4 linked regions of the Homo sapiens genome follow. The main gene of each other region encodes a partner of the protein of the gene in region 3 in a complex. Each region holds a gene or a part of one and is shown on either strand. Other genes may lie near its edges. The genes, in order: BPTF, CDK2AP2, RBBP7 and EED.

Region 1 (7,029 bases), on a different chromosome or scaffold from region 3:
CTTTCTTAACTTCTGAGGTTTCTATTTCCATATCTTCTACCTGATTAACTGAATTGCTTTCTGGACAAGATGCTGAGGGTGTGGTCGTCTGTGTACTGTCAGACTCTTTGGTTGATGGCAGGGTCTCAAGGCTATCTCGGTAGTTACCTTCAGCATCTGAAGAACTCAGCAAATGCGATTTTGTTTCGGAGCTGTTTCTTTCATTAAAATCTTCCATGATGACATCACCATTAATGAATGGCCTTATAGCAGATTCTTTAACAGTCAATGATTTAATATCATTCTCAGGGATTATTTTATTTATATTATTAACCTTTGGTTCAACATTACCACTTACTACTCTACTCTCAGAAATTTCTTTCAAGCATTCACCTTTCAAATATATTTTGGGTTTATTATCTTTTCCATTTATTTGAAATGTACTTGTTCTCTGTCCTTTCTTTTCAGACTCTCGATTTTCATTATTCTTTTTGTCAGTGGTATTTTTTAGCTTTATTTGATCACTACATTTATTAACTGGTCTCTCCTCTAATTTCTTCTGCTGACTTGGTTTTTTACCATTTGCTTCAGTCCCCTTGACCGGCAGCCTGTCCTCACAGTTTCCAGTGGACTCACCAGAAACCAACTCACACTTTAACGGCTCCAAGACTTCAACATCTTGTTCTCGAGTTCTGAACTGTTCAGAAATGCTTTCATTGCTATTCTGAACAATCATATCTTCTTCACTGCTATCCTGAATAGACACGGTATCAGAACTATTTTCCAAAGTGCTATTAGATTCAGAGTCACATCCCAGTTTTCCTTCAAAGTCCATTGCTCTTGACAGAGGTGTGGCATCTCTGTCATTGGTACTTTTAGGCACTGATGAATGTAAAGCACTCTTGGAAGAAGAAACAATGGTGTCACTTTCCTCCTGTATGAGCGGTTTTTTGTTCTTACAGATCAAAGTACCAATATCATCTGCACTGGCTAGTTTAGAGTCATCGATGAAAAAATCATTTCCTTTTGTTTTACTCTTACTGGGTTCCTGGCCTCTACTGGCAAGGTCAGAGACTTTTTCTTCTATGTCATTTTCAATGGAATTTTGTTTCGGACATTTTGTTTCTGGGCTCCGAATGGAGACATCATCTAACACTCGATCTTTTGGATAAAGTTTGTTTGTGGTATGACTAGGATCACTCATTCTAAGAACTGAGGAATCACTTTCTGAACATCCCTGAATCAAGTCCTCAGGTTGATCATTATTTGCATTTGGGCTCTGTTCTTGTCTCATCGAGTCACTCTGACACCCTTCTTTTGCTTTCGTTATTACTGGTGATTCAGAGAGATTTTTTGAAGAATTTGTAGAAGTCTTTCCTATACCCTTAATTCCACCCTCCAACTTGATTTTTTCGAGTCGCTGTTTTTCTTCCAGTGTAAACTGTTTAATTCTCCTTTCAAGAAGTCCATCTAGTTTGGATGATTTTGTTTTCTTTTTGTAACTAGTCCTTAGATGAAAACCCTCACTAACATTGACCACATCTACTTGAGAACTCTCCTGACAATTTACATGTGACTCTGTTTTCATGTCATCGTCTACTTCCATTGGTTCTTCCTTGCAGGGTTTATCACTGTCAGAATCTAAGAGCTCCTTCACATCTGTGAAACAAAGACATTTATATAAATGTAATTTTTACTCTGAAAGGAGGAATTTATATATATATATTTTTTTTTTTGAGATGGAGTCTCACTCTGTTGCCCAGGCTGGAGTGCAGTGGCATGATCTCAGTTCACTGCAACCTCCGCCTCCTGGGTTCAAGCAATTCTCATGCTTCAGCCTCCCAAGTAGCTGGGATTATAGGCATGTGCCACCATGCCTGGCTTATTTTTGAATTTTCAGTAGAGACAGGGTTTCGCAATGTTGGCCAGGCTGGTCTTGAACTCCTGACTTCAGGTGATCCGCCCACCTCAGCCTCCCAAAGTGCTGAGATTACAGGCATGAGCCACCACGCCCAGCCAAAAATATTTTTTTAAAGTATCTCTAGCCACATGCATTATCTAGCTTATCTAGTTTTTTTTTAAAAATGACTTGTTACAAAAGACAATGTAGTTCCTCAAAAGGTTAAACAGAGTTACCATATGATCCAGTAATTCCATTCCTAGGTATATCGCCAAGAGAAGTGAAAACGCATGGCCACAAAAAACTTCTGCATGAATGTTCATAGCAGCATTATTCGTATAGCCAAAAGAGGAAACAGCCCAATGTCCATCAACTGATGAATGGATAACAAAATGTGGCATATCCATACAGAGTATTATTCAGAAACAAAAAGAAAGTACTGATAAATGCTACAACATGGATGAACCTTAAAACCATGCTAAGTGGATGAAGCCAGCCACAAAGGACCACATATTGTCTGATTCCATTTCTATGGACTGTCCAAAATAGGCAAATCCAGAGAGACAGAAAGTAGACCACTAAGCTGGTGGCACTTTCGGGAGGGGTTGGGAAGTAACTGCTAATGGGTATGAATGAGGCTTCTTTTCAAGGTTATGAAAATGTTCTAAGATTGATGTAATAATGGTTGAACTTTGTGAATATACTAAAAGCCACTGAATTTACACTTTAATTGGGTGAATTGTATGGGATATCAATTATGTTTTGATAAAGCTGTTATCAAGAAAACACAACGCAGTACCTTTCCTGTGGTGGGACCCTGATCCAGTGCATTCTTATCACCCCCAGGCTGCCCTCCACAGCTGACTCTCCTTACCTTGGTCCTTCTTCTCAGTAATCTTTGAGATATCCATTTCATTTTGGTCTGCTCCTTTTGCAGCATCTGAACCTTTTACCTCATCTTTTTCAGAATCAGGCTCTATTTTTATTTTTTTTGGACTTCGTGAACATTTTCTTTTATCTGACTCATCCATATTTTCATCCATATTATTTTTGGCTAAAAAGAACCATGTAACGATAATTTACGTTATTTCCAGAGTATTAGCACTTTAATATGTCAAGTTTAGTGAAAATAAACAAGTAATTTCCAGCAAGTTATGTTTCATTTTTTCATTTAAAAAAAAAAAAAAGACAAAGGTCTTATTGAGTATAAGGTACCATATAATCCTATATGCCTGGCTGACCTAAAACACAGAAGGAATGCCTGAACTTCAGACATTTCAGAAAACTTTGTGAACATTTTTGGTGAAATATGATTTAGGAAATTTGTTTTAAAACACTGCAGGATAAAAAAAAAAAGGGGGGGGGGGACCTGGTGCGGTGGCTCATGCCACTGCACTCCAGCCTGGGTGACAGAGTGAGGCTCTGTGTCCAAAAATTAAAAAAAAAACAAAAAACTGTGATTCAGTAACATAGTCAGCTACAAGATAAACATTAATACTATAGGCTGGTGCGGTGGCTCATGCCTGTAATCCCAGCACTTTGAGGGGCCGAGGTGGGTGCATCACCTGAGGTCAGGAGTTTGAGACCAGCCTGGCTAACATGGTGAAACCCGATCTCTACTAAAAATACAAAAATTATCTGGGTGTGGTGGTGCACACCTGTGATCTCAGCTACTCAGGAGGCTGAGGCAGGAGAATTGCTTGAACCCAGGAGGCGGAGGTCGCAGTGAGCTGAGGTCACGCCACTGCACTCCAGCCTGGGCGACAGAGTGAGACTCCGTGTCAACAAAAAAAAAAAAAAAAAAAAAAATTGTCAGTGACAACTGAAACAAGAGTGATAAAATTTGGATGGGTGTAGTGGCTTATGCCTGTAATCCCAGCACTTTGGGATGCCAAGGTGGGCGGATCACTTGAGGACAAGGAGTTCAAGACCAGCCTAGCCAACATGGTGAAACCCCGCCTCTATTAAAAATACAAAAATTAGCCAGGCATGGTGGCGTGCAACTGTGATCCCTACTCAGGAGGCTGAGGCAGGAGAATCGCTGGAACCTGGGAGTTGGAGGCTGCAGTGAACTGAGATCGTACCACTGCACTCCAGCCTGGGTGACAGAGTGAGACTCCATCTCAAAAAAAAAAAAAAAAAAAGTGGTCAGTGACAACTGAAACAAATGTGATAAAATTTGGGTGAGTGTGGTGGCTCATGCCTGTAATCCCAGCACTTTGGGAGGCTGAGGCAGGCAGATCACTTGAGGCCAGGAGTTCAACACCAGCCCAACAAGGTGAAACCCCATCTCTACTAAAAATACAAAAATTAGCCAGTCATGGTGGTACGAGCCTGTAGTCCCAGCTACTTGGGAGACTGAAGCAGGAGAATTGCTTCAACCTGGGAGGCAGAGTTTGCAGCGAGCTGAGATGGTGCCACTGCACTCCAGCCTGGCTGACAGAGCAAGACTCTGTCACACACATAAAAAAATAAAATGAAAGAAAACTCGTGTATGAAGGATTATCACAATCTATTTGATCATTCCAGAAAGCCCATATCAGTGGTTTCTAACATACTTTGTGTCACAGAACCCTATTAGAAATGGATAAATGCTATGATCCTCTACCAAGGAAAAAAGTATGTATATAAACTTTTGTAATCTATTTCAATGGTTCTTGGACTCCTTGAAGTTTATATAACAGAATAAAAGACTGAAAAAAAGGATCAAAGGCAATCTGTGGCCTTGTTTACTGCTTACAGTAAAAAGGTATCTCTAAGACAACCAGGGCAAGTGGAATATGGACTGAGAATCAGATTATTAATTTGTTAATTACGGTTAATTTGTTGAGTGTGATAATGACATGATGGTTATGGAAAAATGTCTACGTAGAGATACATATTGAACTTCTGGTGAAACATGATTTCTGGGATTTATTTTAAAACACTGCAGGATTAAAAAAAGTGGTCAGTGACAACTAAACAAAGAGTGATAAAATTTGGCTGGGAGCAGTGACTCACACCTGTAATCCCAGCACTTTGGGAGGCCGAGGCAGGCAGATCACTTGAAGTCAGGAGTTCGAGATCAGCCTGGCCAACATGGCAAAACCCCGTCTCTATTAAAAATACAAAAATTAGCTCGGCGTGGTGGCGGGTACTTGTAATCCCAGCTATTTGGGAGGCTGAGGCAAGAGAATTGATTGAACCCGGGAGGTGGAGGTTGCAGTGAGCTGAGACCATGCCACTGCACTCTAGCCTGGGTGACAGAGCAAAACTCCATCTCAAAAAAAAAAAAAAAGTGATAAACTTTGATAATTGTTGAAGCTGAATGAGTTCATTATTCTCTTTGTATTTGTGTAGTTTTAAATTTCCCATAATAATTACAAAAAAAAAAAAAAAATCAAGCCTCCCAAAACAGAACTACTGTCTAGATGAATATTCTTGGGACTTAAAGGTTTTTTTTTTTTTTTTGGAGACAGTGTCTTGCTCTGTCACCCAGGCTGGAGCACAGTGGGTTCATCTCAGCTCACTGCAGCCTTGAACTCCTGGGCTCAAACGATCCTCCCTCATCAGCCTCCTGAGTAACTGGGAATACAGGTGTGTACCAATATGTCTGGCTAATTTTTGCATTTTTTGTAGAGATGGGGATTTGCCATGTTGCCCAGGCTGTTTCTTGAACTCCTGGGCTCAACTGATCCTCCCCTGCCTTGGCATCCCATCACAGGTGTGAGCCATGGCACCTGGACTTAAAGGCATTTTCCTATTCTTTACCTTCTTCACTTGAACCTAAATATCCCAAGGACCTAGCAAGGTATATCCATTTTTTATTTAAATGAATGATTTCTTCCAGAAAGGTCTGGCTGAAGGGAAGAGAGTGCAAAGAAATCATAATTCTGTCGCGAGCAAGATACTGGTGTGAGAAAATAGATATAAAAAATATATCTATTTTTAATTTAAATGAATGATTTCTTCCAGAAAGGTCTGGCTGAAGAAAGAGAAGAGAGTGCAAAGAAACCGTAATCCTGTCAAGAGCAGGATAGTGGTGAGGTAAGAGAAGAATCACAGAAAAGGGCTTGGGACCTGCCAGCGTTCTATCACTCTGTGCATATGTGGTCTTCACTATGTCACCTGGCACCCTCGTGAAATAATCGGCTCATTGAACTTGAGTTTAAAAACACATGATCTTTTAAAAGAGCAGTTCATCTCTATAGAGTTCGGTGATTCTAAATACTAAAGCTCATTAGCCAGTTGTAAAAACTCAATTAATAGCTTATTTATAGGCCAGGCGCAGTGGTCACACCTGTAATCCCAGCACTTTGGGAGGCCGAGGCGGGCAGATCACAAAGTCAAGAGATTGAGACCACCCTGGCCAACATAGTGAAACCCTGTCTCTATAAAAAATACAAAAATTAGCTGGGCATGGTGGTGTGCACTTTTAGTCCCAGCTACTCGGGAGGCTGAGGCAGGAGAACTGCTTGAACCCAGGAGGCGGAGGTTGCAGTGAGGCCAGATACGCCACTGCACTCCAGCCTGGTGACAGAGCAAGACTCCATTTCAAAAAAACAAAAACAACCCCTCCCCCCAAAAAAAACCTCATTATTTTTTTAAATTATACTTTAGTTCTAGGGTACGTGCGCACAACGTGCAGGTTTGTGACATATGTATACATGTGCCATGTTGGTGTGCTGCACCCATTAACTCTACATTTACATTAGGTATATCTCCTAATGCTATCCCCCAACCTCCCCCAACCCCACGACAGGCCCCGGTGTGTGATGTTCCCCATCCTGTGTCCAAATGTTCTCACTGAAAAACCTCATTTATGTGACAGTGTTTTGGAAGCCTCTATCACTTTCTTTCTGGTTTTCTCTTACTTGCAACAATGCTAAGGTTACTAGATACATGACTCCTCAGTGAATTAGTACTGAATTAAGATTTTTTTTTTTAAGAGATTGAGTCTGGTTCTGTCATCCAGGCTCGAGTGCAACAGCACAATTATAGCTTACTGCAGCCTCAAACTCCTGGCCTCAAGCAATCCTCCTGCCTCAGACCCCCAAGTAGCTGGGACCACAGCCATGTGGCACTACACCTGGCTAATTTTTAAAACGTTTTTGTAGAGATGGGGTCTTGCTATGTTGCCCAGGCTGGCCTTGAACTCCTGGCCTCAAGTG
Region 2 (6,287 bases), on a different chromosome or scaffold from region 3:
CAGCCTGCTACAAGGTGCTGGGGCAGTGACGGCAGCACCCCGCCAGCCCCTCCCCTTGACACTGAGGCCAAGTGCTGGAAGCAGCAGTGCCCTTTCTCTCTGAGAAGTCAGAGACCTTCAGGGCTGATTCAGAGGCTGGGGTGTTGTCAGGGCATTAGGGCGTGTGAGGGAGTGGCTTACGTGAACTGGCATTTCCATGCTGCCAGGCATCACCGCCAATCCAGAGGAAGCGCCCTCCAGGCCCAGGCTGCCCACAGCGCCAAGGGCTGTGGAAGCAGCCAGGCCCTGTGCTGCCCCCTGGTGGCACCACAGGAAGGCCCAGGGCTCTCAGCGCCACGGCTGGGGCGGAGAGGGCCCAGGTCCCACCAAAGGCTGATGGCCTACAGAGGCAAGTCAAACCTCATTTAATCACACCCTCCCCATCCATAGTCTCCTCTTCCCCTGTCTCTGCCTGGCCCACCCAGGCTTAGCTGAAGAACCAGACCCAGAAAGGCTCAGAGCTGAGAGCACAACTCCAAATCATCTTTTATTAATATAAAAAGGGCATATTTAGCAAAAGACACACAGATAAAAGAGTCACTATGGCTCAGGACACAAGGCAGGGAGGTGCCAGGCCTGTGCCCCTGCTGGGGGAGAAGGAGGCTCGGGACAAAGTGGGAGAAGTGCTGGGAAGGGCTGAGCGGTAGGGGCCACAAAAGTTCCGGTGGGCAACACTGTCGGCAGGTCATGGGTGGGACTCATGGGGACCTCGCTGCTAACTCTTGTTGTGGGGGGGTGTCCTTAGTGCTGCCACCTGGAGGGCCACTCCTTGGTTCCTGGAGGGGACCCACCAAGGGACACAGGACAGGAAGCCCAGGATGGTTAGTGCAACTCGGGATGAAGGCCAGGGAGAAGCGGGTGCTCTGCAGTGGCCGGATAGGTCCAGACGCTGAGGCCGAGGCGCTTCCTGTTACGTGCGGGCGTTCCGCTCTGTCTCTGCCAGGCACTCTCTGACTAGGGCCCGGGCATGGATGATACCTGGGGGTGGGGTGGGGTCTCAGCAACCCTCCACAGCCCCACCCACTGCCCTCCAGAGGAGGACCCCTGCCTCCCCACTCCCTTTCCACTTTCGGCAAAAGAAATTCAAATCTAATGACGGCTAGATGAAATTAGAGGTTTGGTTAATCCTCAAGGTTGCCCTGTTGAAATACAAATTCCCATGCTCTTCCCTGGAAATGGACTCAATTTCAATTCGATTCAAAACACCTCTCTGGTAGTAATACTGGACATCCTCTAGGCTTGGCTCAGGTGGCCTCCAGATGTCCTTCCTTCCCTCATGAAGGATAGTCCAGTGTCGGTTTCCTGAGCAGGGCGGCCTGGCCTCACTTACCTCTCTTCAGGCGCTCCATGGCGCTCTTGCTGCCAGCATAGGTAGGCCGGATCTCTTTGCCCATCTCCTCTATGACTGACAGCAGGTCCGTGTAGGTGCTCTGGGAGCCCTGGGCGCCGGGTGGCTTCATCGCCTATGTCAAAAGAGAACAGGGCAGTGAGCTCAGGCACCTGGCGGGGAGGGGGACTCCAGTCCGCATCCATAAGCAAGGCTTTGGCCCCACTCACCTGCACGTAGCCCATGGAAGGCGGTCCAAAGTCGTTAAACAGCGGTCTGAAAGGAGCGCCGGCTCCTGGCACTGAGCCCGACGGCGACGGGACGCTTCCTGCAGCAACAGGCGCGAGTAAGAGGTCAGCGCGGGGCAGGGACGCCGCCTCCCAGCTTTTCCAAGCCCAGGACCGGGTTCGCCCGATTCCCTCCAAAGGATGCTTCATTCCATGCTGATCAACTTCAGGGACAAATCCCTCCCACTGCGCTCCACCTACAAGCCCTTACGTGACCACGCCCACTTCACAGGCCAGCAAACTGAGGCTCAGCGAGGGTAGGCGGCAGGCCCAGTATTGCAGAACTCAGGCCGTCTTCTCTTCGAGACCTCGACCGCCCGGCAGGCGAGCAGGGGTGGAGCTGGATCCTCACCTGTAGGGACCGGGGTGCCCGGCCCAGGGGTGCTGGAGCCAGGGGTGCTGCTGGGAGCAGGGGCGATGGGTTTGTAGGACATCCCCAACTCCTGGGCGCGGCGGACGCCAGCCGGCCGCTCCTCGGGGGTTGGCTGCGGGGCCGCTCAGCCGCGCTCTGATTGGCAAGCGGGCTGCACGCCCCTGGTAAATAGAGGTCTGGCCGGAAGGGCGAGCGGGCACGAATGCTCCCTCACTCCCGATTGGTGCGCGAAGATGTCACTCGAGCCTCCTTATTGGCCGAGACCTGCCCCAGCAGGTCGCAACCGCCGCCGATTGGCCTCCGCCTTCCGGACCTCGCACCTGTCTGCTCCGGATTGGGCGGTGGCCACCGCCCTCCGCAATTGGCGAGTTCGCGGCCCGGGCCGGCGCGCTCTCAATCCGATTAGTCCCCAGGCCCTAGAGGCGGGGCCTTGGGAACCGGGACCCGGGGCTGGGCTGCCGGTTCGCGCCGAGGGGTCTTCCCGGGCGCGGGCGCTACCCTCGCGCCTCACTCGCGCTGCTTCAGACGTCTGCTCCGCTCTGCCCAGTTTCGGCCCAGCAGGGGTTGCTGTCGCAGCTGCCGTCGCCGCTGCCACCGGTGCCTTGCGCGCTTCTCCGCTCTGGGGGCCGAAGGACGCAGGGCTTTGACGTCCCGAGCCCTGCGCCCCACCCCGTGCGCTTTTACGTCACCTTTCACCGGTTCAACACCCGCTCCCCGATCTGCGCATGCGCCCGCCCGAGGCCTGCGTTTGTTCCCATGGCAACAGGCCCCTCATGGATGCCGCCACGTACCGTTCTTCCTGCGGCTTGGCTCGTCCTCAGGTCTAAGGGCGACCTCAAAGACCCCTTTACCCGCACCCCCAAGGCCCCGCGCTGCTGCCTAAGTTAGTGACAATGGCCGTAGGGCAAACCTTCGGGATTACTTGCGTGCCGGGCCCCGGACCAAACTGGTCAAGAGCACCGACTGGAGCCAACCGTCTGGGTTCAAATCTCAGCACCACCCCCACTAGCGATTTCCCCCAGGCAAGTTTCTCACCTCAGTATGCCTCAGTTTCCCCATCCGTAAAATGGGGAAAATGACGATCTCATTGGGTTGTGTGGATTAAATGAATAGTCATAAAGTGCTTGTTGTTTCATTCTCCGCCTTCCTGTCCCACAGGGCCCCCATACCTTTCCACTCCACCACTCAGACCCCTCCCCTCAAGTCTCACTCCCCACAGAGTTAGACCTCAGACCCTCCTCCACTCCCTAACCCTTTCTCCCAGGCTCCTTCTCCAAACTCAAACTTCTCTGGCCTTGTGTATCTTCATGCTCCCAGCTTTGTAGATCTTCATCTCTAGGACAGTCATTCATTCATTCATTCATTCATTCATCCAACAAGCATGTTCTGGCTGAGCGCGGTGGCTCACGCCTGTAATCCCAGCACTTTGGGAGGCCGAGGCGGGCGGATCACGAGGTCAGGAGTTCGAGACTAGCCTGGCCAACATGGTGAAACCCCCATCTCTACTAAAAATACAAAAATTAGCGGTGTGGTGGCGGGCGCCTGTAATCCCAGCTACTTGGGAGGCTGAGGCAGGAGAATCGTTTGAACAGAGGTTGCAGTGAGCCGAGATCGTGCCATTGCACTCCAGCCTGAGCGACAGGGCAAGACTCGGTCTCAAACCCCCCCCCCAAAAAAAACACACAAAAACCATGTTCTGACTCCCTCCTCCGTCCCATGCCTTGTGCTGAACGCTGAGGTTACAGAAATGAACAGGCCATGGCCTCTGTACTCAAGGAGGCCTTATACTCTGAGACAGGGAAGCAACGTCTTCTTTACATTGCAGTAAGTCAATGGCCACAAGGGATAACGGGACAGGATGCATTGGAACTTAGAGGAAGGGCCTGCCGGGTGGCATCACAGAAATCTCTACAGACTAGGTGGCATTTGAGTAGGTGGGGGTGGAAGCGGAGACCGAGGGGACACTCCAGGTAGAGGGACTGTCATGTGCAAAATCTTGGGAAATGGGAGAGCACAACATGTGTTTGAGAACCAGCCTTTTTTTTTTTTCCTTTTTTTTTTCTGCTGGAGAGTTCACTGGGAAGTGGAGGTGGAGCCGTGGAAATAACCACAGGGTCAGGAAGGGGACCTTAGGTGACGTGGATGTAAGGAAGCTGAGTTGACCACGGAGTCCAGTGCTTCCCTAACTCCAGCCATTAGGAAAACTCCATCAGTTTTGCCATCTATTTAACATTTCCTTGTAATTAATTCACTTTTACAAAATCTTAAATAGAAAGGAAAAGGCATAATGTCCATTTAATCATGTGCTCAGTATTTATAGTTTTCTAATACATATTCAGACTCAACTACTGTTAAAAAGAAAAGGTGTTGATCAGGTCACCCAAGGTCTTCTGCTCCTACTGGTGGCACTGAGGGTGCGCTTCAGAGAAATCTACTGTGGATAGTAGGTGAAGAGGAGCCACTGAGGGTTATACCTCCTTTGGAAACCACCAAGCCCCAACTCCTTCTGTTACAGGAAAGGGGTCTGGATCCATATCCCACCAGAGGGTTCTTGGATCTTGCACAAGAAATAATTTAGGGTGAGTCCACAGAGTAAAGTGAAAGCAAGTTTATTAAGAAAGTAAAGGAATAAAAGAATGGCTACGGACAGAGCAGCCCCAAGGGCTACTGGTTGCTCATTTTTCTGGTTATTTCTTGATGATATGCTAATCAAGGGGTGGATTATTCATGCCTCCCCTTTTTAGACCATATAGGGTAACTGCCTGACATTGCCATGGCATCAGTTTACAGATGGGAGTGTAGCAGTGAGGACGACCAGAGGTCACTCTCATCACCATCTTGGTTTTGGTGGGTTTTAGCTGGCCTCTTTACTGTAACCTGTTTTATCAGCACGGTATTTATGACCTGTGTCTTGTGCTGACCTTCGATCTCATCCTGTGACTTAGAATGCCTTAACCATCTGGGAATGCAGCCCAGTAGGTCTCAGCCTCATTTTACCCAGCTCCTATTCAAGATGGAGTTGCTCTGGTTCAAACACCTCTGACACTTCCACACCTTAGACCTTCCTACTTTCTCCACTGCCCATTCTATTAGTTACTGCAGCCTTGACCTCCTGGGCTCAAACAATCCTCTTGCCTCAGCCTCTCAAAGTGCTGGGATTACAGGCAATAGCCACTGGCCTAATTCCACAAACAAAATAAAATACCATAGACTGGGTGGCTTAAACAACTAAAATTTATTTTCTCATGGTTCTGGAGGCTGCAAGTTTGAGATCAGGATGCTAGCACGGTTGGTTTCTGGTGAGGGCTCCCTTCCTGGCTTGTAAATAGCCACCTTCTGGCCACGTCTTCATATGTGCTCCTTGGTGCAGAGAGAAAGAACAAGCTTTCTGGTGTCTCTTCTTATAAGTACGTTAATCCTGGAAGCTGGGCAGGGAGGTGCAAGGCTGTAATCTCAGCTACTTGGGAGCTCACATGGAAGACTTGATTGAGCCCAGAAGTTTGAGTCCAGCCTGGGCAACACAGTGAGACCCGACATCTAAAAAACAAAAGAAGGGCCAGGCTCGGTGGCTCACTCCTGTAATCCCAGCACACTGGGAAGCTGAGGCGGGAGTATTGCTTCAGCCCAGGAGTTCAAGACCAGCCTGGGCAACATAGTGAGACCCTGTCTCTACAAAAAGTAGCCTGGCATGGTGGCATGTGCCTTTAGTCCCAGCTACTTGGGAGGCTGAGGTGGGAGGATTGCTTGAGCCCAGGAGGTTGAGGCTGCAGTGAGCCGTGATCATGCAACTGCACTCCAGCCTGGGCAACAGAGCAAGACCCTGTCTTAAAAAAATAAAAAAGTAAAAAAACAAAAAAGGACACTAGTCCTATCAAATCAGAGCCCTACCCTTATGGCCTCATTTAACCTTAATTACTTCCTTAGCGGTCCATCTCCAAACACAGCCACACTGGGAGTTAGGCTTCAGCATATGAATTTTGGAGAGACACAAACATTTAGTCCATAACACCCATGTTTGGGGGAAGGGGTTTGCTTGGGAGGTGCCTGAGGGGTTGAACCTTGAATTCATTCATTTATATTTATTTATTTATTTTTGAGACAGGGTCTTACCCTGTCACCCAGGCTTGAGCGCAGTGGTGCAAACATGGCTCACTGCAGTCTTGACCTCCTGGGCTCAAGCAATCCTCCTACCTCAGCCTCCCAAAGTGCTGGGATTACAGGCAGGAGCCACTGGCTTGGCCCTACAGCAGGTTCAGATGTC
Region 3 (7,029 bases):
CACTGTCTTAATGATAATATCCATTAAAAAATGTAACTCAATATTGGCCGGGCGTGGTGGCTCATGCCTGTAATCCCGGCACTTTGGGAGGCCAAGGCGTGCGGATCATGAGGTCAGGAAAGCAAGACCATCCTGGCTAACAAGGTGAAACCCCGTCTCTACTAAAAATACAAAAAATCAGCTAGGTGTGGTGGCGGGCGCCTGTAGTCCCAGCTACTCGGGAAATCGCTTGAACCCAGGAGGCAGAGGTTGCAGTGAGCTGAGGTCACACCACTGCACTCCAGCCTGGGTGACAGAGCGAAACTTCGTCTCGAAAAAAAAAAGAAAAAAAAAAAGAAAAAAAAAATATATATACTGAATATTAACAAAGGTATTAACTGAATTATTTCAGCTACTTGTTAGAATACACTGGATGTGTAACTTTAATAATATATTAACATCATTATGCAGAGACTGTTAAACTGCAAGCCCGGTAAATACATACTTCAGGGCTAAAAGCCATTTAAAAATTTCTGATTACAATATATTCAGGCCGGGAGTGGTGGCTCATGCCTGTAATTCCAGCACTTTGGGAAGTTTAGGCAGGCGAATCACTTGAGGCCAGGAGTTCGAGACCTGCCTGGCCAACATGACAAAACCCAGTCTCTACTAAAAATACAAAAATTAGCCGGGCATGGTGGTGGACGCCTGTAATCCCAGCTACTCTTGAGGCTGAGGTACGAGAATCACTTGAACCCAGGAGGTGGAGGTTGCAGTGAGCCGAGATTGCACCACTGCACTCCAGCCTGGGCGACTGAGCGAGACCCTGCCTCATAACAAACAAAAACAAAACACAAAAAAACCCCAATATTTAAAGAAATAATGCATACAGTTGTCGGGGAATGAACAGTAAATTGTGGGAGTAGTAAACTGGGTAAATCACTTTGGAAAATAGTTTTCTATGAAGTTGACAATGAATACACCATACAACCTAGCAGTTTCACTACACTAGAGAATGTAGTATTTTTGAGACAGGATCTTGCTCTGTTGCTCAGGGTGGAGTGCAGTGGTGTGATCCTAGTTCACTACAGCTTCGAACTCCTGGGCTCAAGCGATCCTCAGCCTCCCAAGTAGCTAGGACTACAGGCATGCGCCACCACACATGGCTGATTTTTAATTTTATTTTTTGATAGAGACAATGTCTCACTGTGTGCCCTGAGTGGTCTTAAACTCCCAGGCTCAAGCGTTCCTCCTGCCTTGGCCTCCCGAAGTGTTGGGACTATGGGTATAGCCACTGCACCTGGCCAGTATTTTATTTTCAATAAGAAAAAAACCCTAAGGCACATATTAGAAAGTGCTAATAGCGTTAAGCCATTTGGGACTGTGAAGAAAGAGTTAATACAGCAGTCTGGGTGCTTAGCCCTGGAGTCTCTGAGGAACACTGGGACCCTATTACTGACCCTTGGCTAACTCCTGGGAACATGCACCTCAGAATGTTCTTTCTGTCACTGATGAACTGATGATTTTGTGGTGTGCACCTGGAGCAATGGACCGCGTTGTACCAGTTTGTCAGGGTTACTCTGCAGATATCAAGATTGATGACACGTACCTTCTTTTATTACTGGGTCCTCAGTTTGTATTACTGGGGTCCTCAAGTTACAGTTGCTGTGGCTGGTTGTCAGCAGGATGTGCCTATGCAACTAGTCCCCCAAGAAAGCCTCAGACCCCAAGACCCAAACAGGCTTCCCTGAGCAGAGATATTTCACACATGTCCCTGCAGTTTGCTGCCGGAAGACACATCCTGTGTGGCCTTGGACAAGACTTGTGCCAGACCTCCCTGAACTTGCCGATGTACATCTTTTTCCTGCTGCTTTTGTGTTCTTTACTGTAACAAACTTTAGCCACAAGTATAATTTGCTCTTGGGAGTCCTAGCAAAATCACCAAACTTGGGGTGGTCATGGGAATACCAAAACAGGAGAGTATATGTTTGACAAATTAAAAAAAGAAAAAAGCAGCCAACAGATTCCTGAATTAACCCTACCACTACTGCCTCTCTCCTCAAACAAAAAATACCCATTGCACACACCAACACATATTACTTTTACCAAAGTGGAATACTGTAATTACACATAGCAGTTAGTCACTTAATTTATCTTGGATACCTTCCTATACCAGTGCCTACAGATTTTTCTCATTAAAAAAAAAAATTTTTTTTTTAAATTTTTGGTAGAAATGAGGTCTGTGTTTTTCAGACTGGGCTTGAACTCCTGAGTTCAAGCAATCCTCCCACCTTGGCCTCCCAAAGTGCTGGGATTATAGGCGTGAGCCATGGCACCTGGCCTTTCTTATTAATTGCTGAGTAGTATTTCAAACATACCATGTGCTTAACCAACTTTCTATGAACCAACATCTGGGTTACAAGGTTGATCCTAATTTTTCAATTCTGCAATTACGACTAAAATCCTTGTGCACATGTGGGTGGGAAGTTCTGTAGAATAAAGTCCTAGAAGTTAAATTACTGGGCCAAAAGCTAATAGTATAGTTTTAATAGCATATGCTTTGAAAGAGACATTTTCCCTTTGACACCAATATTGGAATATATGATATACCTACCACCCTTGTCACTGTCACAATGGGAAGCATCAAACTGTGCATCATCATTGGGAATATGTACTCGAGCAACCACCAGATGATTCTGCTCATCAGACGTATGAGTCCCCAGCACTAGCCAATGAAGGGCATAATCTTTTCCTTCAGGTCTGTTTAAGAAAGAAAATAAGTCACACTAATCCTACAAGAAATCTCCAATTGCTAACAAATTCAGTCTAGTTCCCTCAAAATACATTCATATTTCTTTAGCAAATATATACTTAGCATCAACTGTGTATCTTCTCCCCCTCTGGTTACCAACTTTACAATCCCCACATATGCAAATATAAGAAAATATTCTAGCTACAACATGCAGAGGGCTTGCTTCTTTCCCAAAGAGCCATCCTCCTGTGCCTCAATTATCAGCGTGAACACTACCTTTTATAGAGCAGCACTCCGGGGAAGGTAGGCCCAACTCAGTAAACACAGACAAACATCTACACAGGAATCCACCAACAATCCCCACACTCATAAATCACAACTTCCCACCTAAAGAAATCTTCTTCCCACCTAAAAATATCTTATACACTAGATGTTTCTTATTTCCCAATAAGAAATTCTACAAGGTAGTATGGACAGAAAGTGTTGAATCAAAAAAACTTAGCTTAAATCCTGGATCAAACTAAAATGCAGTTGCTTAAAACACAACCTCCCTGGGGCCTCAGTTTCTTCACTGAATAAAATAGGCTATAAGTGCAAATGGCATGATGTGAAACTCACTGACGTTTATGATACCTAAGTTTATGAAACGAACATTCTCAATTTTACCGAGGTATCTTTGTTACCTTGTTCTGTGGAAACACCTTGAGGCTGAAGAACTTGCCCAAACCTCTTGGCACCTTGGTCCGAGCAGTGATTTTTGCATCAGTATCTATTAAAAAGGCTTTCCCATTTGTATTATCTAGAATACAATTTTCAACTGTGCTCCATGGTCCCACTTCAATGAAGAGGACTGAGAAGTAGGGGTCTAGGCCCTAACACAAGACAAGTTAGGCCATTTATCTGTTTCTAAATTTCAGCTGCACAAAGGATTCAATTTTTTTTTTTTTTCTAAAAAGATTGAAGATTACTTCTAGGCAAGTAATTTAGTAATAAGAAAATACAAGATGCAATTTTACCAAAATTTGGCTTACGGTAAAAAAGTGTGTGCACATGGAGAAGAGACACACACACACACAGACACACTCCCCCCAAAACAGAGTAAGGCAGCCGTGACTAAGCAATAGCAACGTGTTTGAAAAAAAGACAAATGGGCGCCGTGGCTCACGCCTGTAATCCCAGCACTTTAGGAGGCCAAGGCAGGCGGATCACCTGAGGTCAGGAGTTCGAGACCAGCCTAGCCAACGTGGAGAAACCCCATCTCTATTAAAAATACAAAATTAGCCGGGCATGGTGGCGCATGCCTGTAATCCCAGCTACTCAGGAGGCGGAGGCAGGAGAATCACTTGAACCTGGGAGGTGGAGGTTGTGGTGAGTCAAGATCTCAAGATCACACCATTGCACTCCAGCCTGGGCAACGAGTGAAACTCCGTCTCCAAAAAAAAAAAAAAAAAAAAAGAAAAAGAAAGAAAACATGGGTCTTGGTTGATACATGCACAGTGGGCCAAGAATATGATGTGGCTATCAAAAAATTAATTAATTCCATCTTAGGTGGTCTTTATATGTATGTAGGGGGCAATGCACATGAGCACATGTGCCCCCCACCCCCGACCTTTTCTTTTTTTAAGAGACAAGGTCTCACTATGTTGCCCAGGCTGGCCTCCAACTCCTGGACTCAAGTTGATCCTCCTACATCAACCTCTTCAGCAGCTGGGACTACAGATGTGTGCCACCATATCTGGCTTGCCCACTTATTTTTAACCAGTAAAACCATTAAAATTAGGCTCTAAGCAACATACTTTATGAGGACTTGGATAAAAATCAAACCTTTACAGGGAATAGTGGCTTAAAATGAAAGGGTAAGCCAGGTGCAGTGCTGTGCACCCGTAGTACCAGCTACTAGGGCTACTACGGAAGACTGCTTGAGCCTAGGAGTTCATGTCCAGCCTGGGCAACATAGCAAGACCCTGTCTCAAAAAAAAAAAAAAAAAAAAAAAAAAAGAATAAATATTTGGCCGGATGTGGTGGCTCACGCCTCTAATCCCAGCACTTTGGGAAGCCAAGGCAAGCGGATTGCTTGAACCCAGGACTTCGAGACCAGCCTGGGCAACGTGGCAAAATCCCATCTCCACAAAAAACAAAAAACACAAAAACAAAAAACAAAAATTTAAATAAATATTTAAAAAGAGAAATAATAATGCTTGAGAGAAAGAAGGCACCACAGAGCAATGCTGGTACTGTCATCAAAGGAAAAAAGTCACTTGTTTTTTGTGGAGTTGAGCAGGAAAACTAAGACCAACAAGTAAAAAATAACAGGTAGGTCAGTTTATCACAGGCCCTTTCTAAGGAACACTGTCCCAAGACGGACTGGAGGAGCTTAAAAATCCCTCTGGACTCAAATTTAATTATTCCAGTTTTCCCCAACTTGATCATCATATGAGGACTTTTCTTTTTACTAGAAATCCCTTCACCTCCATCATTAAAACACAGCCTGTTTTCCTAAACTAATCAATATGACACTATTTTCCTCCAATACTGGATGTACCTAAAGGCTGCAGAAGGACTAATGGTTAAGAAAGCCTATTCATTTTCAGTGCAGAATCCTTTGACCCCAGTAACTACCACTAGGAAATTTAGCCAAGCATCACATAAATCTGGCCTATTGCAAGATTATTCTCAGCAGTATTGTTTATAGAAGGAAAAAGACTGAAAATAACTAAGTATCCATCAGCAAGGAACTGGTATCATACATTACACAGTGTATCCATAAACAAAATTCTATGGCACTCTTGAAAAGAACAAGCATATCCAAGCATGCTGACAGGAAAATCTCCAATACATACTCTTACTGACAAACTCAAGTGAAGAACTTGCTACCATAAAAAATGAAGATACAGGTATGCACTTCTACACGCTGGCAAGGATGGGTTAGGAAATTGAAAACAATGACTGGGGAAAGGAAGTAGGACAGTAAGGGATGTGGAAAGGGGACTTATTCTTCACTCTATGTCCTTTTATACTTCCTGAATTTGAAAAATTACAAAGCTTTTTAGGTAGACAATAAGTTAGTCTCAATATATTTAAGACATTATTCAACAAGAGATATGAAATAACTATCTAATTAAAACAAATTTCTTAGAGATACTTAAATAAAACCTTTTAAAAGCCAAATCAACACCTGTAATCCCAGCACTCTGGGAGGCCGAGGCGGGCGGATCACGAGGTCAGGAGTTTGAGACCAGCCTGACCAACATAGTGAAACCCTGTCTTTACCAAAAATACAACAATTAGCTGGGTGTGGTGGCACAAACCTGTAATCCCAGCTACTCAGGAGGCTGAGGCAGGAGAATCGCTTGAACCCGGGAGGTGGAGGCTGCAGTGAGCCAAGATGGTGCCACTGCACTCCAGCCTGGGAGACAGAGCGAGACTGTCTCAAAAAAAAAAAAAAAAAAAAAAAAAAAAAAAAAAGAAAGAAAGAAAGCAAGAAAGCAAGAAAGCAAGCCAGCCAGCCAAATCAATTATTTGGACAATTACCTAACTCAATTGAAGGACAATAGCTAAGAAAGTCCAAGTAATCGTTATGAAGCATGTTGTAAGTCAGCAGAAGAAAGGCCTATGAGGTGGAGTAGGATCTTGTTCCTCAGAGTCAGGCATTGAGAATAGTCAACATTTTTACTGTTCTGTATGGTGATAAAACACAGTCCCTTTATACCCCAAACTGAACCCTGCAAAGCACCACACAACAATCCTCAACATCCAAGAATGCAGGCTGCTTGGCATTTTCTTACATTCTCTAAGCCACTGCACATCCCACAACCCAATCCCACAACAGCTTTGTATACAAAGAACACCATGATACACATTAAATAATTTAATTAAAGCATTTTGTTACATTCCTAAGTATTACATATTATAGGTAACATTTTTTTAAAAAAAACTTCAGCAAGTAGCTTTCATTGAAATCCAAATGAAGAAACAGAGCTATTTCAATCCTGACAAATTATTTCTGAACAGGAAGGGGTGGGAGAATCAGCATCAGTCACCACTTACCGTGTACTTATGCTGCACCAGGCACTTTAACATGCATGATCTTATTTCATTCCCTCAAATGTAGGTAGTCAGTATGACCAACATCTCCATTTACAGCCCAGACAACACGGCCCCAGTTCATGAAGCTAAGAAGTAGGGGCATGATTTTAACCCAGGTCTCTAAGTTTAAAGCCCCTGCTGTTTTCTATTATGTTACAGTGGGTCAAAAAGATCCCCCAAAAGGTAAATTTAGTTAATACATTTTAAATCTG
Region 4 (7,029 bases), on a different chromosome or scaffold from region 3:
TATTCTTAAAACAAGTTTCTAAATATATCAAAATATGAGACTTTAAAAAAGGCAACTTCCCAGCTGCCATTCAATTTAATAAACTACATAAAGTGCTCCCTGCCAAGTTCCAACATGCGCACACACATACACACACACACACACACACACACACACACACGATGGAAGTACAGCTTAACTGCAGTTACCATACCTTAGAAAGTATCAAATCGCCTAACCATCGCACACAATCAACATAATTCCTATGTATGTCTCTGGTAGAAAAATCAGGAAAATGGATTTTCTGAGAAATAAATGGCCTGAAGGAAGAATGGAAATGTAAAAAGTTAAAAGAAAAAATTATAGTAGAATCATACTCTTTTTCATTTTTGGATTTATAAAACTTGGAAAAACAAAATGTAAGACTATTAATTCCTCTGTGTTCCTACATAACCAACCACCTTATCTATTTATTGAAAGCTAAAGTCTCATTCCACTTTTGTTTATTTTTCTCCATTATTATCCAATTTTATCTTTGTCCTATGATAGATACTTTGTTTATAAACATTGTAGTTTCCTGCGTTTTACTATATATAACCCAAAATTAATCACCTCAATTCTGGGTACCCTAACCAATAATAAAGGCCTGATCAGTTTCTCACTGAAAATATACTAAGCTACCTACTCAGTCCTTAAAATTAAGCATTAATAATCTATGAAAGTCAATATATCTACACTATTTCAAAAGATAGTCATCTTTCCAGGAACAACTAAACATCATTCCAAAGTCTGCTAAAGATACATCTACAGTCCTGCCTTGAGCAATAATTTCTGAAAATGATGCCTTACAGGAATTTAAAATTTCTTAAGTGGGGGTGGGTGCGGTGGCTCCCAGCACTTTGGGAGGCCGAGGCAGGTGGATCATCTGAGGTCAGGAGTTCGAGACCACCCTAGCCAACATGGTGAAACCCCATCTCTACTAAAAATACAAAAAAAAAAAAAAAAAAAATTAGCCAGGCATGGTGGCGGCCGCCTGTAATCCAGCTACTTGGGAGGCTGAGGCAGGAGAATCGCTTGAACCTGCGAGGCAGAGGTTGCAGTGAGCCAAGATTGCACCACTGCACTCCAGCCTGGGAAACAAGAGCAAAACTCCGTCTCAAAAAAACAAATAGAACAAAATAAAATTTCCTAGGACTTTTCCAAATAATTTCTGTATTTAGGAAACTAAATGGCAACACTGTTTTCATTAGAGATATTTGTGAGAAGAAACAAAACAAGCTGCTATTAATTCTGGAGTTATTTAACAGTACACTTAACATTCCTAATATACTCAGTTTTAAATCAGAAATAGCTGTATAAGTATAATATGCCATGAATTAGTTGTCTTAGGCAATTCATATGTCCTCTCTTTACCTTTTCCCTCAGATATGTAAAAAAGCACTTTGGATTGGAGCAACTCAAAACAATCCTTCCAATTCAAATTCTGGGATATTTTGTTGAAACATTAAAATGTTATTCGTGATCTGATATAAATTCTTAACTCTGCTATAATTATATTAATTGCTTTTTAGCTAAATACATACTATAATTGTATGGCCAAACCTCTCTCAAAGAAAAAACGAGTACAACTGTTATTTTTTGAAAACTCTGAAATATAGTTTGTATTTATTCCAGATATCTAGAAAATAATCTAAAAATATAAATTTAACATTGTCCTACTAGCTCCTGGTGTTTTAAAGGAGAAAGGTAAAACTTTTAATAATTCTTAGAGGACACTTAGGTCTGATGAATGTTAGTGCATTGAAATATTTACTGATGCTTACAAATTTAATAATCTATTAACAATCTGGCTTGATAACCAGAAAATGAATTCTAGCTCTTTGCTAAAACAAAAGTGCCAACAAAGTTAACATGCAGACATACAACGTTTATAGTGAAAGTGTTAATGACAGCCTGATAAGATTCTAAAGACAGTTACTGCATTAAGAATTGAGACATTTCAAAAATATACTAAGAAAACTGCAAAATTCCCCAACCTATAGTACCATGAAGTGAGGCTCCTGCATTTGAATTCTCTCCATTTAATCAAGTGAGCATCATTTAGGGAAAAACATTATCATGAATTAGAGCTAAGAACTCCATTGTTTAAAACTGTGGTTTACCATCTTGAATTAGAATTAGCATCATTTAAAAAAAGTTAACATTATTCTAAAGTGTCCTTTACTCTCCCTAGTCCATAATAAGCTTAAGTGATTTAAAACTTTTACATTTATAACTTAAAAGGCCAAGCATATGCATACCAAAATACAAATAAGTAAAATGTGCTACTAAGTTAAGATGACAACACAATTTAAAGGGGATTTTGAAAACTAAGCCACAAACACTGCAAATAAAGGACTTCTTAAAGGGGTGAATTTTACAGTATGTAAATTGTCCCTTAAAGTTAAAAGAAGGTCTTCTAAACTCATTGTTGGGGCTTATATAGCAATTTTGGGAAAAAATAAAACTTATATTCAATAGCACAACATAGCAAATTGTTTCAAATACCACAACTGTTACCTGTTAGTTTTATTTGGATTATAATCATAAGATTCCTTAATTGCATTCATCATTCTCTTTGAATTGATCCTCCAAAGTTTAAGAGAATGATCCATACCACAGGACATTATTTTTTCACCCAAAAGATCATAATCCTGTATGCAAAACCAAAAAGTTTTATATAAATTACAGCTCCAAATTATATTTATCCAATTTTTGCCTAATGTGCAACATAGTGAAAACTGTATTTCAAATCACAATACAAACTACATTTTGGGTTTCATCTAAATAGGCCATAAATCAGAGTTTACTACTTTCAAGATTTACAGCTTTAATTAGTTTGTCAACATCGGAATATAAGAGCATTTACAATGTATAAACCAAGAAAAAATTACTTAAACTTAGTTTTATCTATTCAATTACACTAAAATATTTATTTTGCTTATTTTGAAGGTAAATTGAATACTAAGTTAAAATAATTATTCTGACACAAAGAGCTGAATAGTGATATTACTTTTCCTATCCAACCTCAACCAACCAATGAAACTGACATGTGCATGTGAAAATACATGAATCCTTAAAGAGCTGACATCTTACTTTATAATTCTAAGTCAAAATATTTTGAAGTTAGTTTTAGAGTTCACTTTTAAGTGAATTTTTAAAAGTCTAATAAAAAACAGATTTTAACTTTTTTCATTTGCTGTTTACTAATTTTTAACAGGCATGTAACAGATCATCTATTGTAACAACCTCATTTCATAGGCAGACACTAAGGCCCAGAGATGCTATTTAATTTAGCAAAAGGCACATAATGAGTAATGAAAATCTCACACACCTATCCACCTCCAGTGAACTCCTGTATTACACAGAAGAGCTACATACTGTCTCCTGCTCTCATTCTAAGAAATAACAGTAGAGAGTTCTATTGAAGGAGTATATTTTCCTTACTAACCTAGATACTATATGTTAATCCAGCCTTTGCATTAATTATGAGCACCATTTTATAAGAGCCTAAGAACTTTAGGCTTGATGTTTATTGAATTCACAGTTGTGGTACTTCTAATTACCTCACTGTCAACAGCAACAAGACATCCTTCGAGACAATACCACTAATTTGGAGTTATTAATAAAGAACAGTTCACTTGGCTTTTACACACATAAAGCCAGACGTAGAATGCTACTGCAACTTTTAGGAAATCCAAGTTGACAAGGTATTCGAAGGAAGGTATGATTCTCACAAAGGAATCCAAACTTCAACATAGGAATATTTTAGTACCTTCAACTAAAATGTTACATGCTGTAAAATATGGTGCCCCTTTACATAGTTTAATGGAAAACAACCTAAGAGATGTGAAATTACTACAGGAATCAAATGAGCTAAATATGGAACATAAGCAAAAATAATGTTAAAATCTGAAACCTAACTAAAAACACTTGTATAATGGACCAATGGATTACAATACATCAATATAAAGGTGGTATTTATCTTTAAACTGGTCTTGTATTATACCACGCCACCCAAAGAGAATGGCTAGAAATAAGTTACCTAAAACAGTGTGAGCACAATAAAACACTTCCAAATAGCAAAAAACGTTATGTTTCAACTTCAAACAAAAGATGGAAAAGCACTTTAATGGCTACATAGTTTAATTTTTTTCTTTAATAACTGCGAAATGGCAAAACAAACATTAACTTAGTGATTTTAGATTAAAAGGAAAGGAGCAAGATCATACTGCTCTCATAAGACTCCAGGGATTGGTATACAGTGCAAGTAATTTAAAAAATAAATAAATAAATATAGTCTTTACTTGTTTTATTCCTTCATCTGGAGATTAAAATCTTCTATGTCAAATGTAAGTGAATGTCTGCCTGACAGGCTACATGAAACACACTTTCTTATAAGGAAACAGTTCCATGGAGACTGTTCACAGCTATGTAAACCTGAAAGTCATTGCCCTGCAGTTTCCAACTTACAGCACTTAGAACTTCATCTCTGTGCCCTTCTACGCCTCCAAATATTGCCACCAGAGTGTCCGTCTGGATATTCCATAATCGTAAAGCATGATCTAGTATAAACATACAAAAATTAGGCGAATGTTTTTTATTTACTGTGAACTTTCAACATCTTGTGAAAGAAAAACTACTAAAGTCTAGATGTAAGTTATGCACAGTAAAGCCTAAAAATGGAATCCATATTACATAGCAACTTAAAATGTTTACATCAGATGTAGAATTAGCTAGGTAAGTGCTATAGTTTGAATAGGCCCCCCCAAAAGCATGTGCTAGAAACTCAATCCCCAATGCAATAGTGGTGTGAGCTGGGGCCTAATGGGAGGTATTTAGGTCATGGGGGCTCCATCCTCACAAATGGATTAATACTGATTATAAAAGGGCCTGAGGCTATAAATTCAATCTCTTGCTCCCTCACACCCTCTCCTGCCCTTTTGCTGAGACGATTCAGCATGAAGGCTCTCACCAGATGCCGGCACCATGTTCTTGGACTTCCCAGTCTCCAGAAACAGGAGCCAAATAAATTTTTGTTCATTATAAATCACCCAGTCAGGTACGGTGGCTCATGCTTGTAACCCCAGCACTTCAGAAGGCCAAGATGGGAGGACTGCTTAAGCCCAGGAGTTTGAGACTAGCCCTAGCAATATAGCAAGACCCTGTCTCAACAAAAAATTTAAAAATTAGTGAAGCCTGAGCAATAGAAAAGAAATTAATTAATCCATCAGTCAGTCACCTAGTCTGTGGTATTGTGTTATAGCAGCACAAAATGGACTCAGACAGAATGTTGGTACTCAGAAACGGGACTATTGCTATAAATACCTGAAAATGTGGAAATGACTTTGGAACTGGGTAACGAGGAGAGGCTGGAAGAATCTGGAGGAGCAGGCTAGAAAAAGCCTATATTGGTGTGAGTGGAGCATTGAGGGTAATTCCAGTGAGGGCTGAAAAGAAGACAAGAGCTTCAGGCAGAGCCTTTATCTTCTTAAGGATTACTTAAGTGGTTGTGATCAGAATGTTGGTAGAACAATGTTGGTCTCAGACAGAATGAGGTTGGTCTCATTCAGTGAGGTCTCAGACAGAAATGAGAAGTTATTGGAAAATGGAGTAAGAGCTATCCCTGTTGGCAGGGTGTGATGGTTCATGCCTGTAATCCCAGCACTTTGAGATTGAGGCAGGAGGATCACTTGAGGCCAGGAATTCAAGACCAGCCGGGGTAACATAGTGAGACCCAATCCCTACAGAAAATAAATTAGCCAGGTGTGGTGGCGTGTACCTGCAGTTCTAGCTACTTAGGGGACTGAGGCAAGAGGATCAATTGAGCCTAGGAGTTTTGGGCTGCAGTGAGCTATGATCATGCCACTGCACTGCCTGGGTGACAGAGACCAACCCTGTCTTTAAAAGAAAAAAAAAAAAAGCCAGGCCAGGTGTGGTAGCTCATGCCTGTAATTCCAGCAGCATGGGAGGCTGAGGTGGGTGGACACTTGAGCTCAGGAATTCGAGACTAGCCTGGGCAACATGGTGAAACTCCATCTCTACAAAAAATACAAAAACTAGCGGGGTGTGGTGGCATGTGCCTGTAGTCCCAGCTACTCGGGAGGCTGAAGTGGAAGGATCACTGGCATGGTGCCGGCATCCGGTGAGGGCCTTCATGCTGAATCGTCTCACAGCAAAAGGGAAGGAGAGGGTGTGAGGGAGCAGAGGTTGTGCCACTGCACTCCAGCCTGGGTGACAAGAATGAGACCTTGCCTCAAAAAAATAAATTAAATAAATAAATAAAAGCCATCCTTGCAATACAGTTGTGAAGAACTTAGCAGGACTGTGTCCATGCCCTAGGACTTTGTGGAAGGCAGAAGTTAAGAGCAATGAATCCAATACCTGGCAGAAGAAATATCTGAGCATCAAAGCATTCACAGTGATGCATGGCTTCTTCTGGCTGCTTATCATAAAATGAGAAATGATCTAAAGGTGAAATTTGTAATTAAAAAGGAAAGCAAAACAGAAACATTTATAAACTCTCAGCCTGGCCATGTAAAGAAAAAAAAAGCAGGCTGGGTGTGGTGGCTCACACCTGTAATCCCAACACTTTCGAAGGCTGAGGTGGAAGGATCATTTGAGCCCAGAAGTTCAAGACCAGCCTGGGCAACATAGCAAGTCCTTGTCTCTTCAAAAAATATATAAAATAAAAAAGCATGTTTGAGAGAGAATATTAAGGATGTAGCTAAGTGACTAATTGCTAAGGAGATTAATAGGGAAGAGAAGGCAGGTTCTATTCACCAAGACAATGGGATAATGACCACAAAGGCATTTCAGAGATCTTCAAGACATAGCTAAGACCTTGAGGGCAAGGTTTCCAGAGTAGCACCCATGGGACCTCTACATTCACTGTCCAGGGCCACTTCAGCACTTTGCTCCCCCTATTCCAAGGCAGTGCTCTTTGGTCACCCCATAGCTTGAAGGGGCTCAAGTATGGCTCAGGCCATAGCTTCTGAAGGTACAAGCAGC

Evidence for each region.
Region 1: RBBP7 (region 3) and BPTF share a complex: the UniProt entries of both Homo sapiens proteins name them as parts of the BPFT-SMARCA1 complex.
Region 2: RBBP7 (region 3) and CDK2AP2 share a complex: the UniProt entries of both Homo sapiens proteins name them as parts of the nucleosome remodeling and deacetylase (NuRD) repressor complex.
Region 4: RBBP7 (region 3) and EED share a complex: the UniProt entries of both Homo sapiens proteins name them as parts of the PRC2/EED-EZH2 complex.

The regions. Positions count from the first base shown.
Region 1 is NC_000017.11:67,905,486-67,912,514, reverse strand, and holds part of BPTF (nucleosome-remodeling factor subunit BPTF), read right to left. Parts: intron 2,934-7,029; coding exon 2,754-2,933; intron 1,639-2,753; coding exon 1-1,638. UniProt on the Homo sapiens protein: Regulatory subunit of the ATP-dependent NURF-1 and NURF-5 ISWI chromatin remodeling complexes, which form ordered nucleosome arrays on chromatin and facilitate access to DNA during DNA-templated processes such as DNA replication, transcription, and repair.
Region 2 is NC_000011.10:67,505,996-67,512,282, forward strand, and holds CDK2AP2 (cyclin-dependent kinase 2-associated protein 2), read right to left. Parts: upstream 2,168-6,287; 5' UTR 2,088-2,167; coding exon 2,006-2,087; exon of another isoform or gene 1,695-2,005; coding exon 1,597-1,694; intron 1,503-1,596; coding exon 1,370-1,502; intron 1,018-1,369; coding exon 950-1,017; 3' UTR 502-949; downstream 1-501. UniProt on the Homo sapiens protein: Acts as a component of the histone deacetylase NuRD complex which participates in the remodeling of chromatin.
Region 3 is NC_000023.11:16,860,362-16,867,390, forward strand, and holds part of RBBP7 (histone-binding protein RBBP7), read right to left. Parts: intron 2,740-7,029; coding exon 2,594-2,739; intron 1-2,593. UniProt on the Homo sapiens protein: Core histone-binding subunit that may target chromatin remodeling factors, histone acetyltransferases and histone deacetylases to their histone substrates in a manner that is regulated by nucleosomal DNA.
Region 4 is NC_000011.10:86,261,726-86,268,754, reverse strand, and holds part of EED (polycomb protein EED), read right to left. Parts: intron 4,584-7,029; coding exon 4,492-4,583; intron 2,673-4,491; coding exon 2,539-2,672; intron 300-2,538; coding exon 194-299; intron 1-193. UniProt on the Homo sapiens protein: Polycomb group (PcG) protein. Component of the PRC2/EED-EZH2 complex, which methylates 'Lys-9' and 'Lys-27' of histone H3, leading to transcriptional repression of the affected target gene.